2 linked regions of the Homo sapiens genome follow. The protein of the gene in region 1 interacts with the protein of each later gene in a pairwise test. Each region holds a gene or a part of one and is shown on either strand. Other genes may lie near its edges.

Region 1 (11,297 bases):
GAACAATGGTGTGCAGACCACGGCAGGTGGGGGACAAGGAGGGTATTTTTGAAATTATGTTATGGGGGCAGTTGACAGAATGTTAGACAGACCCCAAGCTTTCATATCAGCTTTTACAACAGAGTTGGGAGGATCCAGATGTGGGGTTGCATGGAATTCCCCCAAGTACACATATTTGGGAAGTGAGAAGACAGGAAAGGAGGGACCTAGAAATGAAAAGTAGGATGATTTTGTTAACTGGAGCCAAGGTACAATCATTAGACTAGAATGAACTTAATAGAGGCCCCAAGAGAAAGGGGGTATATTTTATATAGTTTGATAACGGAGGGAAACTAACAGGGAGGCTCCCTGTCTGCAAAGCTCCTGGTCCCTCCCAACAGAGATAAGAGAGTAGTCTTGGTTCAAGAGTTCTCCACAGCAAGTTGGAAATAACAAGGAATCCCAGATGATGATGATCCTGGGGAATGTACTTTAGGTTGCTCTGAGGGCAACCGTGCTTAGGGAAAAAGGATCAGGGGCCACTCTTGTTCCTGTTTTGGCGGAGAGATTTATTACTTGGTAGTAAAGAAGAGAGGAGAGAAGAGAAAATGGTCCATTTCTATCATTATGATGGTAGTTCACAGTGGGAGTGAACTTTCAGCTGAAATGGGAAAAACAAACAATGGTCAAGGTCACAAGTTTCTTGCTTGGCTTTTATTCATTGCATAGGGTTTTGAGCTTTTTGTTTTGTTTTGTTTTGTAAGGGTGGGATACAGAAAGAATGAAAAGATCAGGGACAACCCATAATAACTTTTAAGAAGTATTAATATAATGATTTCCTACATCTTTTACATTTGTTTCAAATTAAATAGATATATATCCACTTACAGCTGAATGTGGTAAAATTTTTAAGAAAAAAATGGTAATGTTGGAGATATCCTTCAGGTCTCTCTCAGCCATAAACAATGTAAGGGGGAGTAGAGGAAGCAGAGGAGAAAGCTAGCTTCACTGCTTTGTGGTCCACAAAGCCTTTATAAATAGTAGTGCCTTTCAGAGGGGAGGATGGGAGATAAAGAAGTTCATTGCATTTAGATGTACTGATATTGCAGCATTTTTTCTTTACTTTAAAATATCTTGTAAATGAAAACATCTGAATATAGGGGTGGGACCAGGAATGTTTGAGTTTCAATCTCAGCTATTCCTGATTCATCTTTTCTTACAGAAAGTCTTTGTTTTTCCTTCCCCAAATGTCCCCATTGGTAAAATGGGAGTTGGGGGATGGGGAAGGAGGGAGGACATTAATCTTACAGGAATGTTGAGAAATAACCTTGGTGGGGACATCTATAAAATACTTTGATTTTTTTAAGTGCTACACACTGCCAGTGCTAAGAATTTTATTGATAGTAACTTTGAACATTCCAGGTTTTCAATATTCACGTCTTTAGATACCAATTATAAACTCATGAGATTAAATTCTGTAAATTGTTTTCAGTTGGAAGTATCAGGTGCTCTTTGTCTAAATGTTATTTGGTCTTAGCCTATAATTTCGATCATTTAAGAGCTTGTCTACCGAAAAGGGTTAGGAGAGCTGATGAAGTCTTATGTCCATAAGTTGTTTTCTCCAGTATTTCTTATGGCAGATGCGAAGAGTAAAATGCCCTTGAAAGCAACTGCTACCTTCCTTCTCAAGCTTTATGCTCTGGAAAAAAGGACAGAGAAGAACCCAACAACCACTTTCTTCACTTGGGAGGGCAGAAGTGAGAAGAAAATATCTTCTCATACCACAATTTATTTTTCACAGCCTCACAGGAATCTAAGAGACAAATTAAATGCACAGGCAAATTAAATGCATAGAAATGAATTGGACTGCTCATTTTTGGAGGACAAACCTTGAATCTTTTTTTTTTTTTTTAGGTGGTTAGGTCTTTTAGGAGTTGCATATTTGCTATCCCATAACCTCCATGATTAGAGCCCACGAGTTAGGCATTACTTTTTTCTTGCCTCTGTGGAAGAGCATGGCAATTTAGATTTGTGAGAATATGAGGGAGCAAATATGATATAAACTAAATTTTGCATTAACTAAAACTTTGTCCCATGCATTTAATACAGGAGGAAATTATTTTGTACGTAAGAGGTCTTTGTAGTAGGGCAAAGTTCAAACTCACCATGTCCTTATTCAGTATGGTCAATGAATTGTGCTGGATGAGTTTCGAGGAATGTAGACCTTCTTCCTTTCTCTCCTGGGTCGCACCTCTGTGGAGTCTGGGTTAGACAAATGCAATATGTGACCTTTCAGTGAATTTATTTATAAAACTGCACCTTGATTTTTCCTCACTATTTAAAGCCTAGGGATGATTTGATGATGAATGATTAAACCCATGGTGGGCTTAGAGACGACAGAGCTCACACACGCTCCATCAAGAAAAGGAAAGCTACTATGTTAATATTTATTTTCTAAAAATATTAAGGCTCTCAGTTGTTTCATTAATTCTAAAGGGTTAAAAAGGGCTGAAATTTGTTTATAGCACTAAATGTTTTTAATAGGAAATTTACTCACATAAAAAATTTAAGCAGAAGTAGTAGAATACAGATTATCATAAAACATATTTTCTATGAAAGGCATTTCTTCCTCATCTTCAATAAATATGAAGAAGTTAGAGGAGAGGAAAAAGCAATCACTCTAAGACAACTTTTCGTCTTTGAGGGACATTATGATAAGCCTGAAATTAATACGCACAGGCTATTGCATTTTTCTGTGAGAAATGTGCCCCTTTGCTGTGAGATTCTAAAATGTGTTCAGATTTAGTTTTTATTCAAATGATCAAGATAACGCATTAGTTAGATAACTGCTATTTCAGATAGTGAGGTTAGCTGAGAAAAGGAAGCATGGTAGAAGAAATGCAAATAACAATTCTTGGAATGCCAACTCCTGAGGCTTAGTTTAACCAAGCTAATTTGTTGGCCCAGGGATGGCCATCATATGAGTTTCCATCAATACCTGACTTCCATCAACAACTGAATCCATGTTCTGGAGTATTACAGAGACTGTTACTATGACCTCAAAGACTGTGGCTACGAATCTGAAGTTAACAAGACATACATCTTCTCTTACTAACTTAAGCCATATCTGTCAACTCTATGTTTGATTTTTCTGACCCTGGTGCTTTTACTTCTGTTTCTGCCAAACTTCAGCCTACTCTATGGGGAAGGTGAGTAAAACTAGTAGTTAGAACAAATATGAAGACTGAAAAAAACTAAACATACTCTTCATAATGAGATCCTGTTCAGAGAACAGTAGTGATCAAAGTGCAAACTGTTGGAAAATATGGATATATGTACATCTGTACATGTATATAGTGTATAATATGTATGTATATGTTATTGCTCATATGCAGAAATCTATCCATTTGCAGACAGCCCAGGTGGGTCAATGTTTCTAATGGAAAACCATTTAGGGCCATTCAAAACCATTAGGGCTAATTTGTGGAGACGAATTCTACTCATTCTGGAATTAATTTGCTGTCTTTTGACATCCACAAAGCCAAACTAACAAAGTGTGAAACATAAAGGGGCCATCATTTAGTTTATTCTGTTTATCTGGACTTATAACTATCTTTACATTTGAACTATTAATAGTTGATTTGCAAACTGTATTGGCATCTCTTGGTTTTGAGTGACCCCTGCCCCCCTCAAGTCTTTTGAGAATTTGGAGTGGGCTTCACTGGCCATTCAGACAAAGGGCCTTATTCATAAGTGGACAGGTTTCCCCATAGGGACCATCGCACATATACATATAAGTACATACTTCCATCAGGCTTGTAACAATTGATTTAAAATCACTCCACAGTATTGATAAATAGCTCTATATTTTCAAGGTGCAGAAGAATTCCACAGCCTTAATTATTTCAGTGTCTTGCTGGTCTGCCTTAAGTGTATCTTCTGGGTTTTTGGTTATTTTATTATTTTTAAATTTTTCTGCTGTTGTTCATTTTGTATGCACACAATGTCGTTTTGTAAAGGTAGGTTGTAAATATTTTATTTGTAAGTCAAAATCACTCATGTGTAATGTTGTAAAGTGATGACCTGCTGTCTTGTTACTGCTACAGTAAATGTTATAAGTTATGGATGAAACTTCAAAATGTACATCTCACATGTTATGCATTCCTATAAATATACTATACTAAAGATACTATATGGTTGTCTCTTTTTTCCTAATTAAACCTTTGTTCAAAGAAAAGAGTAATTTTTTTCTTTCTCCAAATATATGAAAGACTTAGAAAAGGTAAAAATATCACAGGATTATTACAACATGTTTGGCCCAGGATTTTAGAGAGAAAGCAACAATTTTGTGCCCTAGAGTATTCTAAGGCATTTACCCAAAAATGCCAAGGAAACCTCAGAGCCAGGTGTGGTGGCTAGCACCTGTAAATCCTAACACTTTGAAAGGCCAAAGTGGAAGGATCTCTTGAGCCCAGGAGTTTGACACCAGCCTGGACAAAATAAGGAGACACCCACGTCCCCCCAACCCCCCACATATTAAAAATTGTTTTAAAAATATTAACTGAGTGTGTTGGTGCATGCCTGTGATCCCATCTACTTGGGAGGCTGAGGTGGAAGCATCATCTGAACCCGGGAGGTAGAAGCTACAGTGAGCTGTGATTATGCTACCTCACTCTAGCCTGGGCAACAAAGTGAGACCAGACCCTATCTCAAAAAAAAAAAAAAAAAAAAAAAAAAAAAAAAAAAAAAGCCTCGGGTTGTTGTTAATTTCATACTGGTATTTCAGGTGATAATGTTGTTAGACTGTCTGGAGGGTATTTTGGGCTGGATCTCACAAGTTTATACATTCTGGTGTGGACTCCAGCAATTTGGGTTAGCCTATACAGATATGATCAGGCTTTGAAAGTTTAAATGTGCCACCCACGTGCAAATGAGGCTGATTCATGGTATACTGTCAATTAGCCAGAGTGTTAAAGTGTTTTGATTAGCTTATTTTGCCAAGAAAACAAAAACATGTTTTAACATTTGGCTTCTATTTCATTAAGATTTTATTGCATTTATTTGTAATGAGAAACACTTGTCAAAAGCATGGGCTCTTCACATTGGCTCATCAGCACAATCTCCTGAGAAAATATAGATAATAAAGAATATTAGAAATGAAATCAGAATCAGGTTTATGAGTTAAAATCATAAGCCCCTTATGGGCTTTTTTTTTATCTAGAATTTGTATGTATTTTAGCACCTATATAGCTTATGAAGCCCATTTGTAATTAATATTTCATTTAATCCCAACAAATTCTTATGAAGTAAGTTATTTTACTTGGATTAGAGAAAACTGAGTCACAGAATCTAGGTGATTGTTCAAGGTCACTGAGACATTCACTGGAAGATAACTTTTTTTTTTTTTTTGGCACAGGGTCTCACTCTGTCACTCAGGCTGGACTGCAGTGGCATGATCACAGTTCACTGTGGCCTCAACCTCCCAGGCTCAAGTGATATTCCTGCCTCAGCCTCCCCAGTAGCTGGGACCACAAGTGTGTGCCATGATGTCTGGCTAATTTTTTTTATTTTTTGAAGAGACAGAGTCTCATCATGTTACCCAGGCTGGTCTCAAACTCCTGGGCTTCCCATCTCTGCCTCCCAAAGTGCTGGGATTGCAGGCATGAGCCACTGACCTGGCCCTAGAACATAACTTAAAATAAATGTGTATGTGTGTGTTTCAGTGTCTCTGTGTGTGTATAGTGTAGGTCAAACAATAATAAATAATTAAATAACAGTACCTCAGCCTATATTTTTTTGAAGGGGAGTGGTTCAGAGGAATCACCAATATAGTTATGGAATATTAGCAAAAGCCCTAATACAAATGATAATCAGAACCCCACAAGCTCAGTCTAAAATAGATATCAGAGTAGAATACAGAAGGGATTCAGTAAGCAATATAGAGCTAGGTCCATGAAAAGGCTCAGATTGAACTACTGCATGAAATTTTACATTCATGGAAACTCTTTAGGGTAAATACCTAAAATAGTAAGACTAAATATTGGTTAAAGCCAAGATCCTTTACCCAGCCTAAGTAAATGAAATGGAGAACACAAAATGAATTGGTACAATCTATGTTCCTCTGCTTTTTTTTTTGTTGTTGTTGTTGTTTGTTTGTTTGTTTGTTGTTGTTGAGACAGAGTCTCTGTTGCCCAGGCTGGAGTGTAGTGGCATGATCTTGGCTCACTGCAACCTCCACCCCCTCGGGGTTCAAGCAATTCTCCTGCCTCAGCCTCCCAAGTAGCTGGGACTATAGGCATGTGCTACTATGCCCGGCTAATTTTTGTATTTTTTGGTAGAGACGGGGTTTCATCATGTTGACTGGGCTGGTCTCGAACTCTCAACCTCAGGTGATCCACTTCCCTCGGCCTCCCAAAGTACTGGGATTACAGGCATGAGCCACCACACTCAGCTCTACCAACTTTTTATCAAGTGTTTTTGAGTGAACTATCTTATTGAATCTTCATAGTGATTTTTGGAGAAAGTTAATATTATTATCTTCATTCTTTTTTTTTTTTTTTGAGCGCAGTCTGGCTCTTTCGCCCAGCCTGGAGTGCAGTGATGCGATCTCGGCTCACTGCAAGCTTTGCCTCCCGGGTTCACACCATTCTCCTGCCTCAGCCTCCCGAGTAGCTGGGACTACAGGCGCCTACCACCATGCCCAGCTAATTTTTTTGTATTTTTAGTAGAGACGGGGTTTCACCATGTTAGCCAAGATGGTCTTGATCTCCTGACCTCGTGATCCGCCCGCCTCAGCCTCCCAAAGTGCTGGGATTACAGGCGTGAGCCACCGCGCCCGGCTTCTTCATTCTATTTTTGAGAAAATTGAGACTCATATAGCTCAAAATGCATTGCCAAAGATCACTCAGCCAGTAAGTAGAATGGGACTAAAATCCAAATGTTTTGGTTTGAAACTTCATGTTCTTTGTAGTGCACTATACAGCTATGCCTTATCTGTTCCTCTTTTTTAAAAAAGTATTTGTTATAGTTGACACATGATATCGTACACATTTATTGGGTACATAGTGCTATTTCAATACACACAATGTACAGTGATCAAATCAGAGTAATTCATATATTCCTCACCTTAAATATTTATCCTTTCTTTGTGTTGGGAACATTCAAACGCCCCTCTTCTAGCTATTTTAAAATATATAGTAAATTATTATTGACTACAGTCACCCTACAGTGCAATGGAACACTAGGACTTATTCCTCCTATCTAGCTGTAATTTGTGTCCTTTAACCACCCCCTACCCTTCCCAGCCTCTAGTGATTACTATTTTATTCTCTAGCTCCATGAGATCAACTTTTTTAGCTTCTGCATATGAGCGAGAACATTTGGTATTTATCTTCCTGTTCCTGGCTTGTTTCACTAACATAATGTCCTTCAGGTTCATCCACCTTGCTGCAAATGACAAGGTTTCATTCTTTATGTGAATTTAAGGGTTATTTTCCTTAAGCTAGAATAAAGTATTGCCTTATATACACAATGGAGAAGGGATTTATTTGTACAGATTATTTATTGATTATTTCTTTAAGGGATTTATTTGTAAAGACCAAATATGTTTGGATTTTCAGATTGTCTAGCAATATTATCCTCCTGGATAACCCTGATACCAATCAATTAACCGTCTTCTAACTCTCCTCCTTCCCTCCCTTACCTTTTCTACACCTATTACCTAAGCATTTGAGGTACGCCAAAGGAAATAAAAAAGTACTCCTCCAGGAAGCAGAGTACAGACAAAAGAGGTAATGAATACTGTAATGATCTAAGTGCTATATATTCCTATGTGCAAACTGCTATGGAACTGTCACGTACTAGATGCTATGAAGTTAATAAAAGAATTGAGTAAAGGTCCCTGTCTTTGATAACTTATATTCTATTTGGAGAAACATGGGGGGTAAATCTTGGCTAATAACTAGCAAATATAACATGTTAGGCCAAGGAGTAGAGATAATTAAGAGAACTAGTCGAGAAGGCATTGGCTATTAAAAAATGGACAGGATTTATGCAAACTCTCATGAAAGGTGGGACTTCATGATCCTACAGTCAATCTAGCTGTTCTGGGCTTTGAACCCCAGCGACCCCATCCAGAAGAAACCAGGAGAAGCACAAACTGGCGCTAGGTTCGCTACCATCCACCTGACCCTTGAGCCCGGGGAAACCCACGGGTGCAGCAAGCCGGGAAAGCTGCAGACGAGGCAGGCGGAAGAGGCGGGACTTCGCGGGTGACGTCATCGGGGCGCCGGAGGCCCGGGGCGCCTGGGAATTTGAAGCAAACAGGCAGCGCGCGACAATGGCGGTCGCTCGTGCAGCTTTGGGGCCATTGGTGACGGGTCTGTACGACGTGCAGGCTTTCAAGTTTGGGGACTTCGTGCTGAAGAGCGGGCTTTCCTCCCCCATCTACATCGATCTGCGGGGCATCGTGTCTCGACCGCGTCTTCTGAGTCAGGTGCTGGCCTAGGAAGGGAAAGGACAGGGCTTGGTGGCGGGAAGGAGGACAAGGAAATGGAAGAGGGTGACAGGAGTTGGGCCGTGAGTGAGAGCAAAAGAGCCAAGCAGGCAGACCGACCCTACTCTTGGTTTGGGGAGTAAGCATGAGAAGCACAGAGGCCAGGGGTTGGGCTCCTCGAGAGTCGTCTGTTCTTTCACCCACACGCTTAGACACGTGTTTTGCAAAAGTCGGGAAACCCAGTTTGGAACGCTTTCTGGCACTGAAGCACACTTGAATGAATTCTGTATATTTAACTCTTTAAGAAAATTAGACTTGCGGCCGGGCGTGGTGCCTCATGAGAGTAATACCAGCACTTTGGGATGCCTAAGTGGGCAGATCACCTGAGCCCCAGGAGTTCGAGACCAGCCTGGGCAACATGACGAGACCCCGTCTCTACAAAAAATTAGCTGGGTGTGGTGGCGCACGCCTGGGACGCTGAGGTGGGAGGATCACCTGAGCCTGGGAGGTCAAGGCTGCAATGAGCTGTCATTGCGCCACTGCACTCCAGCCTGGGCGACAAGTGAGACCCTGCCCTCAAAAAACAAACAAATAGACCGGGAAAACGTGGGTAGGCAGAGAATTCAGTAGCTGGGAAATTACTGGTGAGAAAAGGAAAATAGAACAACCAGAACTCTGTGATGTATACAAAATTTATCAGAGCCCAGAGAGACTTCAACCATACTCCCCTATGCAGCCCCGGGACAATTATTTAAAGGAATTTTGTCCCTGACTAGCTGCCTCTCCCATTATCTTAATGTACCTGGAATGTGTGATACAAAGAACAATGTATAGCTAATCAATCGCTTGTGTTATTATTTTATTTATTTATTTTTTAGATGGGATCTCTCTTACGTCACCCAGGCTGGAGTGCAGCTCTGTGATCATAGCTCACTGCAGCCTGGAACTCCTGGGCTTAAGAGATCTTCTTGCCTCGGGTGAGCACAGGGGCTCATGCCTGTAGTCCCAACTTTGGGAGGCTTTCTTTGGGAGGCTGAGGCGGGTGGATCACTTAAGGTCTGGAGTTCGAGACCAGCCTGGCCAACATGGTGAAACCCTGTCTCTACTGAAAATGCAAAAATTAGCTGGGCATGGTGGTGCACACCTGTAATCCCAGCTACTCAGGAGGCTGAGGCAGAAGAATCAGGAGGTTGCAGTTAGCCGAAATTGAGCCACTGCACTCCAGCCTGGGCAACAGAGGGAGACTGTCTCAGAAAAAAAAAAAAAAAAGAGATCCTCTTACCTCAACCTCTGAGTAGCTGGAACTACAGGCATGTGCCATCATGCCCACCAAATTAAAAATTTTTTTTTTTTGTAGAGAGGAGGTCTCACCATACTGCCCAGGCTCGTCTCAAACTCCTGGCCTCAAAAGATCCTCTTGCCTTGGCGGCTTCCCAAGTAGCTGGGACTACAAATGCCTGGTGCCACCCCCGGGCTACCTCCTGTTATTTCAATGCAAATTCTTGGTGAATATAGGAACTGCCCCTTCTTTTGCTTTAAAAATCCACTTGTAACTACTGTAATCGAAGCCTATAGTCAGGGCAACTACTCATATTAATTTTGCCTCAGCCTCTTCCTGTTAGGTCCACACTTGGAAGGGCTGTTTGGAAAGGGGAGTTGAATTTTGCACTGTGCGGCCAGAAGCAATAATTAAGACTAGAAGGTGGACATATTGGGAAAGCAGGTTTTTAGTCAATATAAGGAAAATTTTTGTACAAATTAGAGGTTTCTAATACAGTGCTTCTCAACTTTGAGTATATATGAATTACCTGGGAATTTTGTTAAAATGCAGAATCCATTTCTGTAGCTCTGAGACTAGACCTGAGGTTGTGCATTTCTAACAAAGTGCCAGCTGAAACTGCAGACCACACTGAGTAGAGGGCCGTAAATATGCTTTCCAATACAGTTTGCTACTAGCCACGTGTTACTATTGAGCATTATGAATTTTTAAGTTTAAATAGTCATATATGGCCAGTGGCTATCATATTGGACTGCAAAGATAGAGAACATTTCCATCATTGCAGAAAGTTCTATCAAGAAGACATATAAGTTTCCTCAGCCCACTTAAGGGTTTATGTTCACTAGGGACCACTTTGTGTGGTTATTGTAAAAAGTATTGAAGATAGGTTGGACTATTAAGGTTGCGGTACTTTGGACCATTAACTTCTCACCATCCAGAATCTTGCTATGGTGTATCTTAGCAATGTGGAGAATTACTAAGGATTTTCTAGGGAAAAATTGATTTATTTTAATAAGCCAGCTGATAAATGACAGAAAAAGTTTTTTGATAACTAGATCATGGTGTGTGTGTGTGTGTGTGTGTGTGTGTGTATTTTGGTGATTAACTGGGGAGGAGTTCAAAACATGGAGAGACTTGGGTATAACAAAACTTCTTTTCACATCTTATGCGAATAGAATTTCTCAGTATTTACACCCCAAAAAGCAATATAATTTATGCTAAACTCTAACTTCCCTTAATAAGTGATAATAAGTGATATTTGACTATAGTACTATATACACATTAGTGTACATAAAGTAATTGGAGAGGAAAGGTAGCATTAACTCACTAAAAATGCATTTTCCAAATCTGTTTTTATCTCTCTGTCAAAATTTGCAAATCATGTTTGAATTAATCATATGCTTGTTATAATTTAATGATATACAGAAGAATTCTCTTCTTTAAAAAGTACAATTTCCATTTTCTTTTCCTCAAGAGAATAGTTTCTCTTCAGTCCTTAAGGATTCAGCTCCTTACATGGGCTTTGGTGAGGGTCATGAGGCAGCA
Region 2 (11,308 bases), on another chromosome or scaffold:
AGATGGTGGGGGAGAAGGTGAGCAGAGAGAGAAGGTCATCGGGTTTGAGGAGAATAGAAGATTTTCAAATAGGTGATTCATAGATAGGGAAGACTTTGGGTTTCTGGCTTGAGAGGTGGATGCCTGATAAAATGCCGAGCTGGCCTTCCTCAAGTCCTGGGTGGTGACAGTGCCTTGTAACTGAACAGCAGCTGCCCGTTAGGAGCTCTTGGGCCTGCTTCAGTGCCCACCGCTCCATGTCACCTTGTTGGGTCCCGGAGGAAAACAGGCCTGCCACTGACCATGGGTCTTGGGGGTGGTTGGGAATGTGTGGCTGAGGAAATGGGGAGAAGGCCACCAAGATGAGGAGGTCCAAGAGCTGCAAGGCCAGGGATTGTCCAGGTGGGTGCCCATGAGAGCGCTGGGGTCAGCCGAGTTTAGGGAAAAGGTAGATGCACAGAAGGAGCCAGCTCCAGCACCGCCCAATGCTGAGGGTGCCGGCCCTGGTCCCTGCACATCCGCGTCCAGGCAGGTGGGCGGGATAAAGCCACAGGGCACAGCCTCAGCCACAGAGCAGCAAAGTGACGATCACACAGTCGTCCTGAGAGCCAGAGGATGTCATGACAGGTAGAAAGTAAAGGCCATAAAGAATGACAGGCTAGAGGCAAAGAGGATTCTAGCATTTTTGACCTCAGTCATGAGAAGAGTGATGATACTGCTGAGGTGGAGGAATTGAGAAGGTGACCCAGTCCTGGCAGGAAGACTGCGGCCACGCAGTGGACCTGTCCTGTCAGCAGTGGGATATGCGAGATATGGGCCGTAAAGATCTCTCTCATAGGGTTGGTGTGAGAAATCATGGATTAAGCCTCTGGCACTTCGAGAAATGGCTACTTTCTCACTTTCTTTAGGTGAGAAATTATGGACAGAAGTCATCCATTTGAAATAGGAAATTTTCTTTGCTTTTCATTTATCTGTGGTGTCAAAAAGTGTTGGTCAGTTACTGCTGGTTAGTTACTACTTATTTCTAATATATATGTTTTGGTTGTTTTTTGAGACAGAGTCTCACTCTGTTGCCCAGGCTGGAGTGCAGTGGTGGGATTTCTGCTCACTGCAAACTGCACCTCCCTGGTTTAGGCGATTCTCTTGCCTCAGCCTCCTGAGTAGCTGGGATTACAGGTGCCCATTACCACGCCCGGCTAATGTTTGTTCATTTTTATTAGAGACGGGTTTTTGCCATGTTGGCCAGGCTGGTCTCGAACTCCTGACTTCAGGTGATCTGCCTACCTCGGCCTCCCAAAGTGCTGGGATTATAGGTGTGAGCCACCGTGCCTGGCCTTATTATGTTTTTCAAATACAATGGATGTTGGTTTAAATATAAAGTTCCTTAAGTTTGTATTTGGATATAGAGACAAAATAATTTACTTTGAAATGGAAAGAATTGACTGCAGTAGGGAGTTTGGGCACATCTCTGCACTGGAAATTGTCCTTAGGAGACAAATTTGATATACTCAGCTGTGTGCTCTAGCGGTGGAAAACTGAGAAGGCTCCATCCATTTCTAGTGAGTGAATGGATTTGATCACTAGTGAGAAGAATTGCGGAGATTTTCTGAGAGACTTTCAGCAATGCAAGAGAACATAAGGACGTTTTACTTCTAGATGTGAAGAAAATGACTGAAACTTTAGAAATATGAGACAGATTTAGTTGAACATTAGATTGTTGGGGGGAGTGTAACTTACCATCAAAATCCTGTTTAAATTGCAAATTTATAGTGGTTAGAAGCCATGTGATGTGTATCATACTGCTTTCTATATATGGCATTCAGTAACTCAGTATTAATGTAAATGAGGATTATGACAGTTGTGATGGAAAAATTTAAACTTGACATTCATTCAGAATTGTTTGTAGTATAGCACAATTACGTAATTGAGCAATTAAGATTCTTTTTCTTACGTTCTCCAGGACTAACATGTTTCCAGCCAGAGGCAGATCAGATGGTTGAAAAAGTGATCGGATGAATGTGGTAGGGGTTTTGGGAGGCATCTCGATGGCTGGCCTTGCAGATTTCTCCTCTCCATCCAGGCCTGCACCTCTCGCTTCCTCAAGTGGAGAAGGTTCCAGGCCAACGGCCATCTTCATTCCTAGCCGGGACTCTTGTCCTGAATCTCCATCTGTTCTTCTCCCTTAATGGGGTGGGTCAGCAGTGGATGAAGACCCATCTTAACTCAAGCCCGTAGTAGAAACAGCTGTTAAGTTGCCTCCTGTCAGCAGTGGATGGGCTGGGTCAGCAGTGGATGAGGACCCATCTTAACTCAAGCCCGTAGTAGAAACAGCTGTAAGTTGCCTCCTGTCCTACCTAGGCCTCCCTCAGCCCTCTGAGATCAGATGGAGCACTTTCTGCAGGCAGCAGACCCTGCTGAGTCCTCTTGGCCAATCTGAAAAATAGGAGCCTCTGGCCTCTGTGCTGTCCTGATGTCTGCTGCTGTGTTTGTCTAGGTCCTGTGCCTGTTCCTGAGCTCCCTTCCACCTGGGCTTGGCAGGTACAGAGAGGCGGGGAGCAGCATTTGGTAATGACTAGTTCAGCCCTGTCCACCTGCAGACGGGCATTTATTTCTTTACCATCCCTCAGAGTTCCATGGGCTGTTTACATATGAGGGTGAAAAAGTAATATGTGTACAAAATTCAAAAATTCAAATGATACCAAAGGACAGAGTGAACAGTTAAACTCTCAGCCCCCCTCCCACCCCTCGCTGCTGTTTACCTTCTCAAGAGGCAGCCGCTGTTTCCAGCAGTTTGCCGTGTAGGGCTCATGGCTGGTGCCCACCAGGCAGGCAGGTGCCCCACACGTGCATGCTTCTTAGGGGGTGTTTGCACAGCACCAAATGCTGCTGGGCTCCATGGGGTGGCATGTTGTGGGGTGAATTGTCCCATCTTCTTTTCTGGATTTTTAAAAATACTTTTAAATATGGAGATGAAACAGTTGTCTTATTATTTTGTTTAAAAGACATTTTTCTGCTTAGAGTTCCACTCAGGTGTTTCTGAAGTCTTGAATCCTTTTATAGAGATGTCTCATACATAAGGTGATTTTAGAGATGGGTGTGCCCAAGCTCTTGATTTTGACTTATTTCAATTCTAAACTCCCTTATTTATTACTAAATCCAAAATCTGTTACCCTTGCAGGTCATATAATCTTTGCAATTTGGAATCTGTTTAAGTGAAAGATACATGTTAGAATATGTTTGAGATTTTGGTATAGTTCTGATATGTGTTAAATTCCTAGAATTTTATTTAAATTTTAAATGCTTTTAATAGGGTTAAAAGTTGTATGGATTGAGTTAAGTAAAATCTATTTTTACTGATTTCCATGACCATAAGAAGTTGGTTTCAAATTTTTGTTGCTTGAGCATGTTGAACAAAATTCATTGTATAATGTGTATCTCTTGTTGTATTCAGTGCCCTATAGGATATTAAAAAAATAACTTACTCTGCTTGGTGGGCATCTGCTGGTCACCGTCCTTCTCCTACTCCTCAGCGTACACAGAACTCTCAGCTTATTCCCTGTCATTGTGAAGCAGAAAGAGCTAGAAGACAAATAGTCTGGTTTGAATTCTTTTTTTCTAGCTTGAAATATTTTTGTGTCCCCCATGAAGACTCAGTCATTTTTGAGGAAGCATCATTTCCCAGCTCTAATGATGAGTCCTTAGTTGGGAGGAACATCACCATTTAAACAGCCCCGGTGGTGTCTTAGCTGGCCTCCTTTTCCATAGCATGCCAGTGCACATAGCAAGTTGACAGTGGAGCGAAAGGCTCTTGGACTCACAGCTTGGGTCATGCTGCTTTCATCTGGAAGGTGATCCACTGAGAACCTTTGTTTACTAGACTCTGGGCTGTAAGACAAGAGGAAATGGGAAGTGGCAGCTGTGGCGAGAAGGTTTGAGGTGAGGCTGAGCCCGATTACCAGATGCCTTCACCACCTGTCATTCCTCAGTGCATTCCTGGGCCAGGAGAGGGTCTGCGGAGCTGATGCAGGCGATGGGCAGTGGAGTGGTGCCGCAGCACGGTGCAGGGAGCACCAAGGCTTAGCTACCAGGTGTGCACAGGACTCCCATGCCCTGCTCTGGCAAACACATCAGCCGTCTGAGTCTTTGTCACTTTAATTCGTTAGTTTACTCCATTTTACTGATGTAGTTTCAAATTTTGGTGGTCTCAATATATGAATTTACTTTACGATATTGGCGTTACAAAATAAATACAAAAGAAAATGCAGTATTGTTTTTGCAGTTTCCAATCATTTGCTGTGTCTACTTAGTTGAATATTGTTAATAAATAGGATATGCCATTCTCTTGACTAAGAAATTATCATTCATCTGTTTCAGGAACTGTTGATAATGTTTCACCTAACTTTTGTTTTGTAGATCTTACAGACTCTTTCAGCACCTACGAAAAATTTAGAACAGCAGGTGAATCACAGCCAGCAGGGACATACAAATGCCAATGCAGTGCTGTTTAGCCAAGTGAAAGTGACTCCAGAGACACACATGCTACAGCAGCAGCAGCAGGCCCAGCAGCAGCAGCAGCAGCACCCGGTTTTACACCTTCAGCCCCAGCAGATAATGCAGCTCCAGCAGCAGCAGCAGCAGCAGATCTCTCAGCAACCTTACCCCCAGCAGCCGCCGCATCCATTTTCACAGCAACAGCAGCAGCAGCAGCAAGCCCATCCGCATCAGTTTTCACAGCAACAGCTACAGTTTCCACAGCAACAGTTGCATCCTCCACAGCAGCTGCATCGCCCTCAGCAGCAGCTCCAGCCCTTTCAGCAGCAGCATGCCCTGCAGCAGCAGTTCCATCAGCTGCAGCAGCACCAGCTCCAGCAGCAGCAGCTTGCCCAGCTCCAGCAGCAGCACAGCCTGCTCCAGCAGCAGCAGCAACAGCAGATTCAGCAGCAGCAGCTCCAGCGCATGCACCAGCAGCAGCAGCAGCAGCAGATGCAAAGTCAGACAGCGCCACACTTGAGTCAGACGTCACAGGCGCTGCAGCATCAGGTTCCACCTCAGCAGCCCCCGCAGCAGCAGCAGCAACAGCAGCCACCACCATCGCCTCAGCAGCATCAGCTTTTTGGACATGATCCAGCAGTGGAGAGTTAGTAATGGAGATTATTTTTCCTCTCTCCTAAAAGTCTTGTACCCACATAAATGCTTTGAGAGTGTTTGAGTGTGGGGTGAGGATTCATATCAAAACAATTACTACAAAATGGAGAGTGTGAGTCTCATACCTAACAAAGAATATAGTTACCATGGGATAATTATGCTTTCTTTTGTACTTTGGGACATCATATCCTGAAGTGAATATTGGTGTCCCGTAGAACATCTAGGCTGCCACAGGGACTCATTCAGGGTATTTAATGGCCAGGCATGAGTTACCTTGGTTTTAGTTTTTAATGATCATTTGATGTAGACAGTTAAATAGTATCTTCGTAGCAATATTCCCTATGCACTCTGATTACTGGCAGATACGTCATGGTCAAGACTGATAAACATAACAGATTGACATTGTGAGGCGCCACTTTTTAACTTTTGTGCAAGCATATTCATAGGGTTTTAATTTTCTTTTTCTTATGTAATTTTACTCTAGTTCCAGAAGAAGGCTTCTTATTGGGATGTGTGTTTGCAATTGCGGATTATCCAGAGCAGATGTCTGATAAGCAACTGCTGGCCACCTGGAAAAGGGTGAGATTGTGCCTGGAGGAAGGATGACTGTGTCTGAAGATGCTTCTTTCTTATGTAGATGTAACTGTGTTCACTTAGCTGCATTCACTGAGCTGCACCTGCACGTGTTCTGAATGTGTGACGGGCATTTTGATTAACATTCTGTGTGACCTGAGGCACAGCACTTTTCTGGGCATCAGTTTTCTCAGCTGTTAGATGAAGATGGTGGACTTTTTATTTTTTTCAGCTTGGAAATTCCAGGGGGCACTAATTATATGTGTATAATTGGGGCAATGGAAATAAGTTCAGGGTTTTGGTGTCCTGGGAGAGGGACTATTAATTTGTATGCATCTCAGTCATTTCTCTTTCTCCAAAGGTAACTGTTAGAAAATCCTGGAATCTCTAGAACCTCAAATTCTTCCAGCCCAATTGTGAAACTGGAGTTAATTTAATTATGTATTATCATGCATGGTGGCCTTTAAAGAAAAGAAATACTTTTTCTTGCATTCCCCAAAACAAAACTGAGTCAAAAAATTTTTTTTATAAAAACCGAGTTTAAATATGCCTCTAATATATCTTGAATGTGCTTCACTATAAACATCCCTAGTGCTTAAATCCCTGCTATGTGCCAAGCATGCTGCAAGACTTAGGGAATATGTGCGAAATCACAGAGACGGAGAAAACGGAAGAGCAGTGCGAGAGGCAGCCACACGGCTAAGCAGAGGTGGGGTGGCAAATGCAGGCTGTTGTGAGAGCCTGAGAAAGGACCTTCACCCATCGTGTTGTGGGGTGATGTGTTAAGAAAAGTCTGCTGGGAGAGGTGATTCCTGAACTGCTTATAGGATGAGTAGGAGTGAGAATTAGGGGGGAGGATTTTCCAAATAGTGCAGCACAGCCAAAGGCATGTGATTGGTGAAACTGACAGGAGGGTGCAAAGGAGGGTGCCTCAGTGGGATCCACGAGGCAGGGGTTGGGGCAGGAGCCAGGGCTGGTGTGTCTTCCAAGACCTTGTTGGTGTGCCATGTGGTGAAGTTTAGATGCAGGTGAAGTGATCAGCTGTGCATTTTAAATAGTAAAGGGTTGAATCTGAGGGTGACCAGGGAGATGACTGTGTGGCTGGCTGAGGAAAGAGGCGGATGGCATGTGCCAGGGTGAGGAAGGAAGGGAGCAGTTCTGAGAAGGACAGCAGCAGAGATTTTTTAAAAGTCAGAAGTGTTCGAAGGCAGCACTGAGAAACTGTCTTGAGAAGTACAACAAAACTCAAAGATACAAAAGTTAGTGGAGAAAAGTTTGGGGTTTTTGTCTTGTTTTCAAGTTAAAAGATTTATCCAAGAGGTCTAACATTAAATAGGATCTTGGGAACAGAGAAAATGAAGGCAAGAACATTATGAAAGAAAATAGCTTTGCAACTGAAGGCCATGTGCCCTCAGGTTGAAAAGAAATGTAAGGAGAGCCATGATAAGGCAACTGGGAACATTCACAATGCTGGTAGAGAAAACTGTTTTCTCTCAAAGACAAGCTCACTGGAGGGGAAACGTGGACAGATCAGGAGTCTGGGTGATTTCGGGAGCCTCCAGTGCAGTGCGCGGGGGCCAGCAATGGAGCAGCTTCTTCCATTTTTGAGGGAAAATAATTTCCAACCTAAAATAACCTATAGAGCCTATCAGTCATAAGACTATGGAAGGAGGATATTTGTAGACTAATGGTAAAAAATGTACCTCCCTTATATTCTTTCTTAGGAAGCCACTATGCCAGCAGAGAGTGAAACATGGTAGCCAGGAAATGAGGCATTTGACTCAGAGATTGAAAGAGAGTTCCTAGGATGGAGGTAAAGGGAAACGCCAATAGATGAGAAAGTAGGTGTCGAGAGAACTAGACCTGGGACCGGAAGAGAGACTTCCAGGAGGAGCAAGCAAACGAAAACACTGGTAGATTGAGGAGAGACATGTACCGCTGACCCCTGAACAGTGTGGGGCCTAGGGGTGCTCACCCCCATGCAATCAGAGATCTGTACATCACTTTTGATTCCCGAAAACCCAAATTACTAATAGCCTGGTGTTAACCAGAAGCCTTACTGATAAACAGGCAATTAACGCATATTTTGTATATGTATTACCATATTCTTACAATAAAGTAAGCTAAAGAAAAGAAAATGTTATTAAGAAAATCATAAGGAAGAGAAAATATATGTACTATTCATTAAGGGGAAGTATATCATCATAAAGGTCTTCATCCTCGTCGTTTTCACGATGAGTGGGCCTAGGAGGAGGAGGGACAGGAGGGGCTGGTCTTACTCCCTCAGGGGTGGCAGAGGTGGAAGAAAATCCAGCTATCAGTGGACCCACACAGTTCACACCTGTGTTGCTTAAGTATAGGTGATACTACATTCATTTTCTCTTGCTGTGTAACAGATTATCTCAAAACCCAGTGGCTTAAAACAATAAACATTACCTCTCAGTTTGGTCGTGGGTCAGAAATCCTGCAACAGCTTGGCAGGGCGGTTGTGGCTCAGCTATCTCCTGAGGTTGCAGTCAGGATGCCAGCGGAGGCTGCAGGAGCCCCTTCCAGGATGGTTCCGTCACATGGCTGTGGGCTGGAGGCCTCAGCTCCTCACCACAGAGGCTCTCCAGAGGGCTGGTTGTGTGTCTTCACAGCATGACAGCTGGCTCCCTTCCCCAGGGGGTGTGACCCAAGATAGAGGGAAAACCCGCAGCGTTATGGTGTCTTTTGTGACTGAGTTATGGGAGACTCCCACTGTCAATTCCACCATATTAAGTGACTAAGTCTAGACCATATTTAAGGCTAGGGGAGTAAAGCTCCAACTCTTAGAGGGAGGAGTATACAGTAATTTGCAGACATATTATAGAACCACCATATGTACATTTTTCATAGAGTTTGGGAATGAAATAGTAAAAGGTATATAGAAAACTAAGAAAAGGGAAAATTCTGGGGGGCTGGGATGAGGAAGTGATTAGCACCAGGGAAAACCAAAGTTTATACCAGAAAGGAACTCTAATCTTAGGCTGCCATATTAAGCCATGTGGCTGGGCTACATTGTGTTAAGTCACTGATGAATGATCTAAACAAGAGTCTGGATATAACCAAATCAGGAAGGCTTGAAGAATGTGTGTGTTATTGGGGGGAACGGTGTCCACAGTAGGAGGTAGATGGTTATGTAAAACTAGAGAAAAGGAACTAATATAAAGTGTTAGTTGGAATATATTAATAATTGTCAGTGGAAACAGCTTAAAGTGCTAAATGTGCTTCAGGGGAGTGAAAAGCAGGGATGGGTGAGGAACCTGTGGTTTTGTCCTGTGCCTCATTAAACTATATTTATGCTTAGCCATAGGAAAAATAAACATTCACATCTTAAAAGTAGTAAGTGAAAGAATCGGTTTTCTTAGGGGGCAGGTCTTTTTAAAGTTTATATTTCACCTAATAGGCCGTCAGATTCTCCTTTTTCCATGTACAATATTTTGAGTTCTGAAGAATGTCCAGGGTCGTGCAGCTGTCACAGCCCGGACACAGAGCAATTCCTTCCCCCAGAAAACCAGATGTGTTTTGAGAAGAAACTGTTGGGATTTACTAATTTCATTCTGATTTGCTTTTTATTTCCCTTTTTAAGGGAGGTGGATCTGCCCACCATAGACCTTTGGCAGTATCTGAAGATCTTTAGTAGTCGCGGCTAGGGGGCTGCTGCTGGCATAGGGTGGGTAGAAGTTGGGGACACTGCCAAACATCCTCCTCTGTACAGGACAGCCCCCACTTCCCAGAACTCCCTGGTCCAGAGTGGCAGTTACATTGAGCTTGAGAAGCCCTGGAGTGCATTCCATTGTTCTTCTCTTGTATCCTGGGAATTCAGATTAAATTTAGAGTATTGGAGTTCATTTTCATTGTATGGTGCTGGGTAGAAAAGTCCGTAAATAGAACTGTTACATGTCCTTGATACTTTGAGGAAATACATGATATAAATATATGATAGAGTCTTTTAATAGCTGCCTTATTTGAAATTGGAATTCTCCTCTATTCTGAGTGATTGATGACTGCATTGGTCGGGTCTTTGTGTGTAGATAATCCAGGCACATGGCGGCACTGTTGACCCCACCTTCACGAGTCGATGCACGCACCTTCTCTGTGAGAGTCAAGTCAGCAGCGCGTATGCACAGGTAAGGAAAATAGCCTTAGCTGCGACCAGGAGCAAGGTCTGGCATTTTTAATATGCAATCTTAAATGCTAGTGATTATTATTTTTGGAAAGAACTTTTTTCTACCTCTAAAGATAGGAAAATTCCTTCTTCCTGTGATCGAATCTTTGGTGGGATTGATATCTTTTGTGGGCACCATTGTCTTTGAGCAATGGAGAAAGAAAGGGATGTTCCCAGGTGGTGTTAAGAAAGGGCGGACAGGAGGCCGAGGTGGACGGGTCACGAGGTCAGGCGTTTGAGACCAGCCTGACCAACCTGGTGAAATCCTGTCTCTACTAAAAATACAAAAATTAGCCAGGTGTGGTGGTGCGCAGCTCTAATCCCAGCTACTCAGGAGGCTGAGGCAGGAGAATTGCTTGAACCCAGGAGGTAGAGGTTGCAGTGAGCCAAGATTCCACCACTGCACTCCAGCCTGAGTGACACAGCGAGACTCCATCTCAAAAAAAAATAAAAGAAAGAAAGGGCGGACACTCCCTGCAGTCACCATTCCAGCTGCTCTCTGTGCACGGTGAAGGGACGCAGGATTCTGTACTGGTGTGTGACTTGCACACAAGCGTGTAAAGACCAGGTCCCTTACAGAGCTTTTCTAAAACTACCGGGGTGCAGGCTTTCTCCTCAATATTACCTTCCTGTGCTCTCTGAAGTTTCATTTCTTTTCAAAAAATAATGCTTATTGTAGACAGATTATATATATATGTGACAAATGACTTCCAAGACACCCCTCTTAAAGAGGATAGCCATTCACAGGATCTGCTTTTCCTGTAAAAATGTGGAAATACTTCTGAGACTTTTTTTTGTTTTCCTGTGGTTCATCTTAGGTGGATGGTTTTTTGTATTTTTTCTTATGTGGGGCCCTCTGTCCTTATGGGGCACTTTTAACTTTGGTGGTCACACATGTTGTTTCAGTCATCACTGAAGTTATTTTTAAGGTTGTTGTAGAATTTGTTGCTTTTGTAGACTCTTGTTTGCAGATGGATAGTAACATTTTTAGGTTGTATTTCAAGTAACCAGCTACACGGTTTTAATTCGTTACTTTAATCAAGTGCTAGATGTCATGAAATTCTTTTATGGGGCTTCCAATGAAAAGGGCATTGTAGTTATACAACCTTAGAATTTTCTTTAATCCTGCAGCAGAAAAACAAAAACAACAAACCTATAATTTTATGTTTGACAGGCAATAAGAGAAAGAAAGAGATGTGTTACTGCACACTGGTTAAACACAGTCTTAAAGAAGAAGAAAATGGTACCGCCGCACCGAGCCCTTCACTTCCCAGTGGCCTTCCCACCAGGAGGAAAGCCATGTTCACAGCATGTAAGACAGAGTCCTCGCGTTCCATTTGTTAAATCATCCTTCGACTTTGGCGAATAATCACTTGCTAGTGCTTACCTGAGGCTCCTGCGTTGGCTTCTGAGTCAGAGCTT

Evidence for each region.
Region 2: the proteins of UMPS (region 1) and PAXIP1 interact in a two-hybrid assay, tested with the Homo sapiens proteins (one study listed by BioGRID and IntAct).

The regions. Positions count from the first base shown.
Region 1 is NC_000003.12:124,722,155-124,733,451, forward strand, and holds the start of UMPS (uridine 5'-monophosphate synthase), read left to right. Parts: upstream 1-8,297; 5' UTR 8,298-8,317; coding exon 8,318-8,473; intron 8,474-9,351; exon of another isoform or gene 9,352-9,450; intron 9,451-10,284; exon of another isoform or gene 10,285-10,362; intron 10,363-11,297. UniProt on the Homo sapiens protein: Bifunctional enzyme catalyzing the last two steps of de novo pyrimidine biosynthesis, orotate phosphoribosyltransferase (OPRT), which converts orotate to orotidine-5'-monophosphate (OMP), and orotidine-5'-monophosphate decarboxylase (ODC), the terminal enzymatic reaction that decarboxylates OMP to uridine monophosphate (UMP).
Region 2 is NC_000007.14:154,962,211-154,973,518, reverse strand, and holds part of PAXIP1 (PAX-interacting protein 1), read left to right. Parts: exon of another isoform or gene 1-2,312; intron 2,313-3,430; exon of another isoform or gene 3,431-3,465; intron 3,466-4,392; coding exon 4,393-5,116; intron 5,117-5,608; coding exon 5,609-5,703; intron 5,704-9,752; coding exon 9,753-9,848; intron 9,849-11,060; coding exon 11,061-11,198; intron 11,199-11,308.